Regions from separate parts of the Homo sapiens genome. Here all the other regions are reported to be linked to region 2. Evidence: microRNA targets listed by miRTarBase, many of them from high-throughput screens and not tested one by one. Region 2 holds a microRNA gene; each other region holds the end of a gene's coding sequence.
The links. Region 2 holds the annotated microRNA hsa-miR-6512-3p (UUCCAGCCCUUCUAAUGGUAGG, at 1,847-1,868, opposite strand). A microRNA usually pairs through its seed, bases 2 to 8, with sites in the 3' UTR of a target mRNA and lowers its output. Matches are read on the target gene's strand: a 7mer-m8 pairs with bases 2 to 8, a 7mer-A1 pairs with bases 2 to 7 and ends in A, and an 8mer does both.

Region 1: miRTarBase lists OR7D2 as a target of hsa-miR-6512-3p. Seed matches in the 3' UTR shown: 7mer-m8 at 2,160-2,166 and 7mer-m8 at 987-993.
Region 3: miRTarBase lists SC5D as a target of hsa-miR-6512-3p. The part of its 3' UTR that is shown has no 7-base or 8-base seed match.

What each region holds. Positions count from the first base shown.
Region 1 is chr19:9,186,015-9,189,128 of GRCh38, reverse strand. OR7D2 (olfactory receptor family 7 subfamily D member 2) reads right to left here. Exons shown (of 3, transcript NM_175883.4): 3 at 311-3,114. The coding sequence ends at 2,409. Among named protein-coding and RNA genes, the nearest start is that of OR7D2, 8.6 kb to the right of the region's middle.
Region 2 is chr2:177,311,965-177,315,232 of GRCh38, forward strand. It overlaps MIR6512 (microRNA 6512), which reads right to left and starts at 1,918; the gene lies at 1,842-1,918. The region is part of intron 6 of LOC100130691 (Putative uncharacterized protein FLJ44553); the gene reads right to left.
Region 3 is chr11:121,306,906-121,310,019 of GRCh38, forward strand. It overlaps SC5D (sterol-C5-desaturase), which reads left to right. Exons shown (of 5, transcript NM_006918.5): 5 at 152-3,114. The coding sequence ends at 607. Among named protein-coding and RNA genes, the nearest start is that of SC5D, 16 kb to the left of the region's middle.

The DNA of each region.
Region 1 (3,114 bases), not on the chromosome of region 2:
GCTTCCTGGGGTAATAGGGCCTGGTTATTTCTACACAATGTGAGAATTCTCCAAAGAGCAGCCCTAGCTTTAGAGCTCCCCATAGAGTTGGCAGAAACTTTCTCAGATCTGCATAAACATCTCTTATGGACTAAATTGCACCCCCCAAAATTAATATAGTGAAGTCCTCACCCCCAATATGATGACTGTCTTTAGATACAGGGTCCTCAGGGAGGTAATTAAAGTTTACTGAAATCATAAGGGTCAGGCCCTGATCTAATAGGACTGATATTCTTAGAAGAAGAAGAGACACCAGAGAGATATAACCAGCTATATTTAAATACGTATTTTAATCATACTTCATCCAGTAGGAAAACAAATAAACACTGTTGATCTGTTCATGATCGAACACACAAACAACAAAAACCCACATGCAAACACATAGAAATAAAGTCAGTGAACAATCAATAGCTTAAGAACTCTGTGCCACCACTTGAGATAACAAAGCTATAGCAAATGCTTCAAACCCAAGTTCAGAACTCACTAATGGAGAATTAAGAACGATGATCAAGGACACAATTTTTGAATAGCACATAGGACAGAAGTGCCATCAAGGAAATTACTTGGAGATTAATTGTTAACTTACACCCCCATGTTTATCACGGCACTATTCACATTAGCAAAGATATGGAATCAACCTACGTGTCCATCAATGGAGGACTGGACTTTTTTTAAAGTGGTATCTTAAAGAACTAGAAGGCCAGGCACAGTGGCTCACACCTGTAATCCCAGCACTTTGGGAGGCCGAGGTGGGCGTATCACCTGAGGTCAGGAGTTCAAGACCAGCCTGGCCAACATGGTGAAACCCTGTCTCTACTAAAAATAGAAGAATTAGCTGGGTGGGGTGGCAGGTGCCTGTAGTCCCAGCTACTCAGGAGGTTGAGGCAGGAGAATCGCTTGAACCTGGGAGGTGGAGGTTGCAGTGAGATGAGATCGCGCCACTGCACTCCAGCCTGGGCAACAGAGTGAGACTCTGTCTTAAAAAAAAAACAAAAAAAAGAACTAAAAGTAGAACTACCTTTCAGTCCAGCAGTTCCACTACTGGGTATCTACCCAAAGGAAACAAAGTCATTATGTGAAAAAGACACATACACCTGCATGTTTATAGCAACATAATTAGCAATTACAAAGGCATGGAACCAACCTAAGTGCCCATCAACCAATGAGTGATAAAGATTGTGGTATATGTACAGCATGGAATACTACTTATCCATAAAAAGGAACCAAATAATGTCTTTTGTAGCAACTTGGATGGAACTGGAGGTCATTACTCTAGGTGAAGTAACTCAGGAATGAAAAACCTGGACTTGTTTGTATGTTCAACCAACATACATAAGATCCATATGAACATATCGTATGTTCTCAGTTATAAGTGGGAGCTAAGCTATGAGGACACAAAGGGATATGAACAATATAATGAACTTTGGTGACTTGAAGGGAGAAAGGTTGGGAGGGGGGTGAGGAATAAGAGACTACTACCACTTGGGTGACGGGTACACTAAAAACTCAGAAGTCACCACTAAAGAACTCATCCGTGTAATGAAAAACCACATGTACCCCAAAAACTACTGACATAAAAATAAATTTTTTTAAAAAAAGAAAACATGGTATGTATCTACATATGTCTATATCTATATAGATATCGAGGATATATACAATGGAGTACTACTCAGCCATAAAAAAGGATGAAATCATGTCTTTTGCAGCAACATCGATGGGACTGGAAGCCATTCTCTTAAGTAAGGTAGTAAAGAAACAAAGTCAAATGCTGCATGATCTCACTTATAATTGGGAGCTAAACAATGTATACGCATGGGCATTATAACAGAATAATGGACACTGGAGACTGCAAAAGGTGAGAGGGGAGTGAGAGTTTAAAAACTGCCTTGGCCGGGCGTGGTGGCTCACACCTGTAATCCCAGCACTTTGAGAGGCCAAGGCAGGTGGATCACAAGGTCAGGAGTTCGAGACCAGCCTGGCCAAGATGGTGAAACCCCGTCTCTACTAAAAGGCATGGGTGGCACACACCTGTAATCTCAGCTACTCAGGAGGCTGAGACAGAAGAATCACTTGAACCCGGGAGGCGGAGGTTGCAGTGAGCCGAGATCACTCCACTGCACTCCAGCCTGGGAGACAGAGTGAGACTCCGTCTCAAAAAAGAAAAAAAAGTGCCTTATGTTCACTATTCAGGTAATTGGTACGCCAAAAGCTCAGACTTCACCCTTATGCAAATGCATGTTAAGAAATCTGCATTTGTACTCTCAAAGTATAAAAAAATGTTTTTAATTTTAAAGAGTAAGAATTTCAAAATAAAACATTTTTGCCATTGGTGCTCACAAAACTTCTTAGTCCTGGGGCCAAGGGATCCATCACAAACAAGAGGCTGCCCTGCTGAGGAGACTCCCCAGGGCTCCCTTCACATCCTTGTTCCTCAGGCTGTAGATGAAGGGGTTCAACATGGGGGTGACCACAGTGTACATCACCGAGGCCACGGAGATTTTCTGGGAAGAGTGAGTCACCGCAGAAGTGAAGTGGACCCCAATGCCTGTCCCATAAAATAAAGAAACGACGGAGAGGTGAGACCCACAGGTGGAAAGTGCTTTTTGTTTTCCCCCAGATGAGGACATCTTCCTTATGGATGAAGCAATTCGTGAATAAGAGAAAATGATCCCAAGGAGGGGAAAAACGCCCAGCACACCCGTCATAAAGTATATCAACGTGCTGTTCAGGAAGGTATCAGAGCAGGCCAGCTGGAGGATGTACGTCAGTTCGCAGAAAAAATGTGGAATTTCAAAATCTTTACAGAAGATTAGATGCATCATCAGAGAAATATGGAGGAGGGATGTCATGACACCAATGAGCCAGGTGACAAAAACCAGGAGGCCACAGAGGTGGGGGTTCATGATGATCATATAGTGCAGAGGGTGGCAGACAGCCACAAACCGGTCATAGGCCATCACGGTCAGGAGTAGCGTGTCCAGAATAGGAAAAAACATGGAGAAATAGACCTGTGTGAGGCAGTCCATGTAGGAGATGGCTTTGTTCTCGGTCTGGATGTTCACCAGCATCTTGGGG
Region 2 (3,268 bases):
TGTAATCCCAGCACTTTGGGAGGCCGAAGCAGGCAGATCACAAGGTCAGGAGATTGAGACCATCCTGGCTCACATGGTGAAACCCCGTCTCTACTAAAAATACAAAAAATTAGCTGGGCATGGTGGCGGGCACCTGTAGTCCCAGCTACTTGGGAGGCTGAGGCAGGAGAATGGCGTGAACCCGGGAGGAGGAGCTTGCAGTGAGCCGAGATCACGCCACTGCACTCCAGCCTGGGTGACAGAGCAAGACTCCATCTCAAAAAAAAAAAACAAAAAACAAAAAGCCACATAGTGGCAAAAGATATTATCAATACATATACCCGACAAAGGACTCATATCCAGAATAAAGGACTATAAAAACAAGAAAAGGCAGACAAGCCCATAGAAAATCACACAAAACACATGAATAGGCATTTCACAGAAGAGGGTACCCAAATGGCCAATAAACAATTAAAAAGGTGTTTATTTGATATCAGAAAAATGAAAACAACAATGAGATTCAATACACTGCATTAGTCTTTGAAGAGAATGGCTAAAATTTAAAAGATGGAAAAGATCAAGTTTTGATGAAGATGTGAAAAACTGTTGGGCAGTACTACTCAAGCTGAACCCCATGCATCAGAGAAATTACACTTTTATATATCCAACTGAAATATGTGTGTGTGTGTGTGTTCACCAATGTTCACAGTGGCACTAGTTGCAGTAATCTCAAATTGGAAACAACCCAAATGTCCATCTTTGGTAGAACGTATAAATTGTGTTATATTCATACAATGGAATACTACACAGCAATGAAAATGAAGATACTATTATTACTCTCAACATGAATGAATCTCACAAATAGTTGAGTAGGAAAAGCCAGTAATAAAATAATACACACTGTATCATTCCATTTTGTCTAATGTTTAAAAATAGGCCAAATTGGTCTAGGGTATTAGAAGCCAAGATTACAGTCAATTTGAGGGAGGATAATGCCTAGAAAAGATAATGAAGGGAGCTTCTGGTATGGTAGTAGTTTCTGCCTCCCAATCTGGGTGCTAGCAATATGTAGGTGTGTTTACTTTATGAAAATTCATCAAGCTCTCTGATTATAATTTGTGCATTTTTCTGTCTGTATGCTATACTTCAATAAAGATAGATTTATACTGAGTTAGGAACAAAGCTCAATAACTATAATTCTAGGCTGAGCTGCTAATAGGATTTGTTAAACAATTTAAACTGTGCCAGTCAGATATAATGATGCGAAATTAGAAAGGTAAAAGGAAGAGAGAGGCTATTTCCCCTGCCTATTAGTTTTCCTTCCTTCCTTCCTTCCTCCCTTTTCTTTCTCTTCTTTCTCCTTCCTTCTTTCTCTTTCTCCTTCCTTCCTTCCTTCCTTTTCTTTCTCTTCTCCTTCCTTCCTTCCTTCCTCTTCTTTCCCTTCCTTCCTTTCTCTCTCTCTCTTTTTACCTTCCTCCTTCCCTCCCTCCTTCTCTCTCTCTATTTATTTATTTTTTGAGAAAGATTCTTGTTCTGTCCAGGCTGGAGTACAGTGGCACAATCACAACTCACTGCAGCCTAGACCTCCTGGGCTCAAGGATCCTCCCACCTCAGTGTCCCAAATGTTTGGGACTTCAGGCATGCACCAACATGCCTGGCTGCCTATTAGTTTTCACTGGTAGTTGTTGATGTACGTGCAACATTAAATGTGGTTTTTAATGACCAGACTTTCTGTGCCTCTGCATTGCCACTAACTTCATCTGTGAGAAATGACTGTGATGCCAGCAGTGGACTTTATAGCTTCCTGACCTCTAGATTGTAGCTGTGTGGACTGAACTGCGAGCCCAACAGCATCCCTCTTAATGCTCCTACCATTAGAAGGGCTGGAAGAAGGCATCTCCCTCAGCCTTCTTCCAGCTCTTCTAATGGTAAGAGCATATAATTTTTAAGCATATAATTCTTAGCATTCAGTACCTAGAGAAGTGTCTGCACTGAACCCCAACTGATATATCAGTTAATAACACAACTGATAGGTTATCTAGTAGGTTTATGGTTGGTTGTAAGAATCTTTGGGAAAGAAAATTACCATTGGCAATCCTACCACCTAGGATCATCATTATCATGGGAAAGTTCTGCTTTAGAGGCAACCTAAATCTATTTTGAGGTCCTGAAAATGCATTTACTTCACAGGATATGCTGGTTTCTGCTGCCATTCAAAAATTATTCTTAAGGCATTCTTTGTTCTCTTTTCACTAGCTAAATAATGCCGTGCTTTTAACTTTTCTTTATGTGTTCAGCAGCTTTTCCCAGTTGTGGATATTTGAAAAAAGTATTCATATAAATACTGCCTGTTCTGGTAGGATTAGCTGTCCCTTTCTTTTGGTTATATTCCCAAGTTCATTCTTGCTTATCTAACCAAAGCCCTACATTGCTGACTCAAGTTTAGTTTATGGTCCAAGCCCAGTATCATGTTACTATTAGCCAAGATTTCCCATGGGTTGAGGCAGACTTGTAGAAGATTGAAAAATAAAACTTACTGGCCATAAGTAAGACTTTTTATCTGGCCTTCCAGTACAGAACATTCTCTAATATAGCAGCTTATAAACAATGAGAATCAGAAGCCTAAAAAAATTAGTTAATAGCCAAACAGTGACTGAATCATGGAATTGTACAGTTAGAATGGACCTTAGAAGCAGTCTATATAAGCCAGGTATAGTGGCTCATGCCTGTAATCTCAGCACTTTGGGAGGCCAAGGCAGGAGGATCTCTTGAGCCCTGGAGTTTGAGACCAGCCTGGCCAAAATGGTGAGACCCCATCTCTACTAATTTTTTTAAAAAGTCTATATACATACCAGAACACAGAGCTCAGATATGTATGCAGGATTCCAGTCCGTGCTGAATACTCTTCCAGTATGAGTACTCTTCCTACTCCTCAAGGTGTGTGGCCCTCAAAGCAGCAGCATCAGCACTTACCTGGGAGCTTGTTAGAAAGCCAGAATCTCAGGCTCCAACACCCACTGAAGCAGAATTTGCATGTAACACCCCCACCCCTTCTTGATTTGTATGCATGTTGAAATTTGTGGAGTTAGAGACAAAAGCACCACAGGTGCATGTCTTACTATTTAAAGTCTTGCCTAATTATATAACATAGAAACCTGATCCCTTCTGGACAAGGCCTGTATTATTACAGGTCCTGGTCTAATAGAGTATTTGAATAGCTGGGTTAAAGAAAAAGAAAACTCTCTTTAATAATCTTTGGAAAAAGAGGACATTTATTTGAGCTATGCTA
Region 3 (3,114 bases), not on the chromosome of region 2:
TTTAGGGCGAAGAAGGACATTTTATAGAATAAATAATTTTGCTGATCTCTACAGGATTTGTTAGGTTGTTTCCAACATGAGTGTGAGAAGCTAAGTTGAATGTTGCACGGGGTAAAGTTTGCAGTGCTAATTGTGTCCTTTTCTCCTGCAGCGCCTACATAAACCTCACCATATTTGGAAGATTCCTACTCCATTTGCAAGTCATGCTTTTCACCCTATTGATGGCTTTCTTCAGAGTCTACCTTACCATATATACCCTTTTATCTTTCCATTACACAAGGTGGTTTATTTAAGTCTGTACATCTTGGTTAATATCTGGACAATTTCCATTCATGACGGTGATTTTCGTGTCCCCCAAATCTTACAGCCATTTATTAATGGCTCAGCTCATCATACAGACCACCATATGTTCTTTGACTATAATTATGGACAATATTTCACTTTGTGGGATAGGATTGGCGGCTCATTCAAAAATCCTTCATCCTTTGAGGGGAAGGGACCGCTCAGTTATGTGAAGGAGATGACAGAGGGAAAGCGCAGCAGCCATTCAGGAAATGGCTGTAAGAATGAAAAATTATTCAATGGAGAGTTTACAAAGACTGAATAGATTATTGCCCAGTTATTCTTAAGTAAGGACAAAGAAGGAAATATCATCGTATTTCTTTTTTTTAATAAGGAAAAAATAATATCCATACAGTCAAGATACATAGTAAATGGTATCATTTGGAAATCAGCATCGTGGGCACTGCTGAGGAATGATCCTAGTGGTAGGTCAGAAGAAGATGCTGTGAACACCAGGACTTTAATCTTATGCTTAAAATGCCAGATGTTGTTCGGGGGACAACTTGTATCTTTCTAGCAGCAGATCTGTAGTTTGTATAGCCTCAACAACAATTTTAAATAAGATGGAGAATAAATTATTGAGGGGACTAGGCTATATGCATTTGCCTTCATCCACCCATGTTTATTAAGAATCATTGTGCTTAATAATACCAAGACTAAGCACCATAACCAAGAAATACTAATGTAAAGATTGTTTCTTGTTTCAGGAATGGTTAATTCTTCAACGTTGGTATGATAATGATAACTTGTTTTGACTTGAATAAAGTACTACATCAGTGTGGAAAAAAATTCTGATACATTAGCAGCTATGTAAATGACCTAATTGATAGCAGGTGTAATAAGACTATCGTCTTCCTACACATAGGAGGCTCATTCTCTGGACACACTATCACCTATTACATTTTACTGATTAACAAATAAATTGGAATTTAAAAATATCGATATCACCATGATTTAATCCAGATCTGGGATTATGTAGCTAAACATTGTGATGATTATTATTTAAAACCATTATTTAATAAGAGTAAAAATATGTGAATCTGGATATATTTAAAAAAAGAAATTTGATGCCCAGATAATATATTAGGCACTACTGATTTTTTAGTTAAATTGATGCACTACACTTTTGATGTTTGAAGTTACAAACCTGTAATTTTTTTGTAAAGGAAATAATTGCCAAATACCTAGGCCCATTGCTGACGATTAGTTCTAAAATCTTATTCCTCCTCTTCTCCCCTCACTTTTCCCTACTTCCTCTGCAAAAAGATTTAACAAATACATTCATAAGGAAATGTGTGTTGTAACAAATATATTGCAAAAACATAGTTTGTAAAGGCATTCTATAAGCTATTTATGTAAAATCAATAAAAGTTGATCATAATTAAACTGTATCAGTTGAGTATTATAGCAGCACAAAGTATTCTTTGTACAGATTTTGTGCCAATTTGAAGCCACAGAAATGATGTGGATTGTTAATTGTGTTTTAGAACATCCCCGGACACTCAGTGTCACAGGGGGAAAGAAGTGGGTACCACATTCTGTTTATATTTCACATTTTAACTAGATTTGAGTGTTTTTAGCAAGAAATCAGTCTTAAAATCTAATGTCTGGGATCCAGAAGAAAATGTCTTTAATCTGTGAGTTATTGTCACAATGTCATCTTATTTAAATGTACCAATTAGCATTTTGTAATAGGCAAATGTCATTTAGTGCTTTTCACCAATCCCACTCACCCCCGGTGCTCCGCCTTGCCTAAGAAAAAGAAATTAAGGAGAAGTAAACTTTATTTCCTAATATAATGTCAGCTGATATTTATTGAGCTTTTCCTCTTTGCCCAGAGACTAGGACCCAAAGAAGTTAAGTAACTATTCCCAGGTTTATTTCTCTCTCATATGATGTCCCATGTGGATGTTTGTGGTCAGTGGACAGCTTTCCACCTAGTCTTTCTGCGACCCAGGCTCCTTCCTCTTGGGGCTCTGCCTTTCTCTCAGTCCATAGAGCCCTCTTTGTTGAAAGAGCACATAGGAAAAGAAGGAAAAGTCTGTGTGGAAAATGTTTCTGGGTCAGGCCTGGAAGTGGTGCATATCTCTTCCGCCCATGTTCCTTTGGACAGAACTCCGTCACATGGCCCACCTAGAGAGATTTTGGGAAATGTGTCCAGCTGTGTGCCTGGGAGGAAGGGGGCACCATTTTCTTGAGCAGCTAGACAGTTTGCCGTATTTGTGGTGTTCTCCTCTTGTTGATGTTGAAATGGTGAATGAGCCATAAAGTATTTCAGGTTATCCACACACTAATCATCTCAGTGTCTTTAATTCTTAACTCCAATATGAATGTTTAAAGCTTCCTCTAGATTCTTATTCCTATATAACTAATAGAGAAGAAAGGACAGCTTCCTATGGGGAAGACAGAGGCTTCCTCATAGATGTTAGGAATAATCAAACTTGCCCCTGCCCTTTCACCCGTCTCAAATTCTGGTCTTTTAAAGCAGCGTTATGTTAAGTAGTCCTAACATTGTAATATACAGTACTGCCACATTCTCCTACTTTCTATTAGAGGAAGTCAGAGAATATTTATGGAAGTGAGGACCCAAATTACCTTCTACAGATGACTTTTATAGTTACAGGACAGAAAGTGAAAATCAAGGTTACGTTTTCTACTTTTGTGGTAGAAATTGAGAAGTGGGTGGATATGGTTCGAGAAGACCTTTCAGAAACACAGAGACTGAGTCTTTGTCTTCCATGCTGTCTCTGCAGTACTGAGTGAATTTCCTTA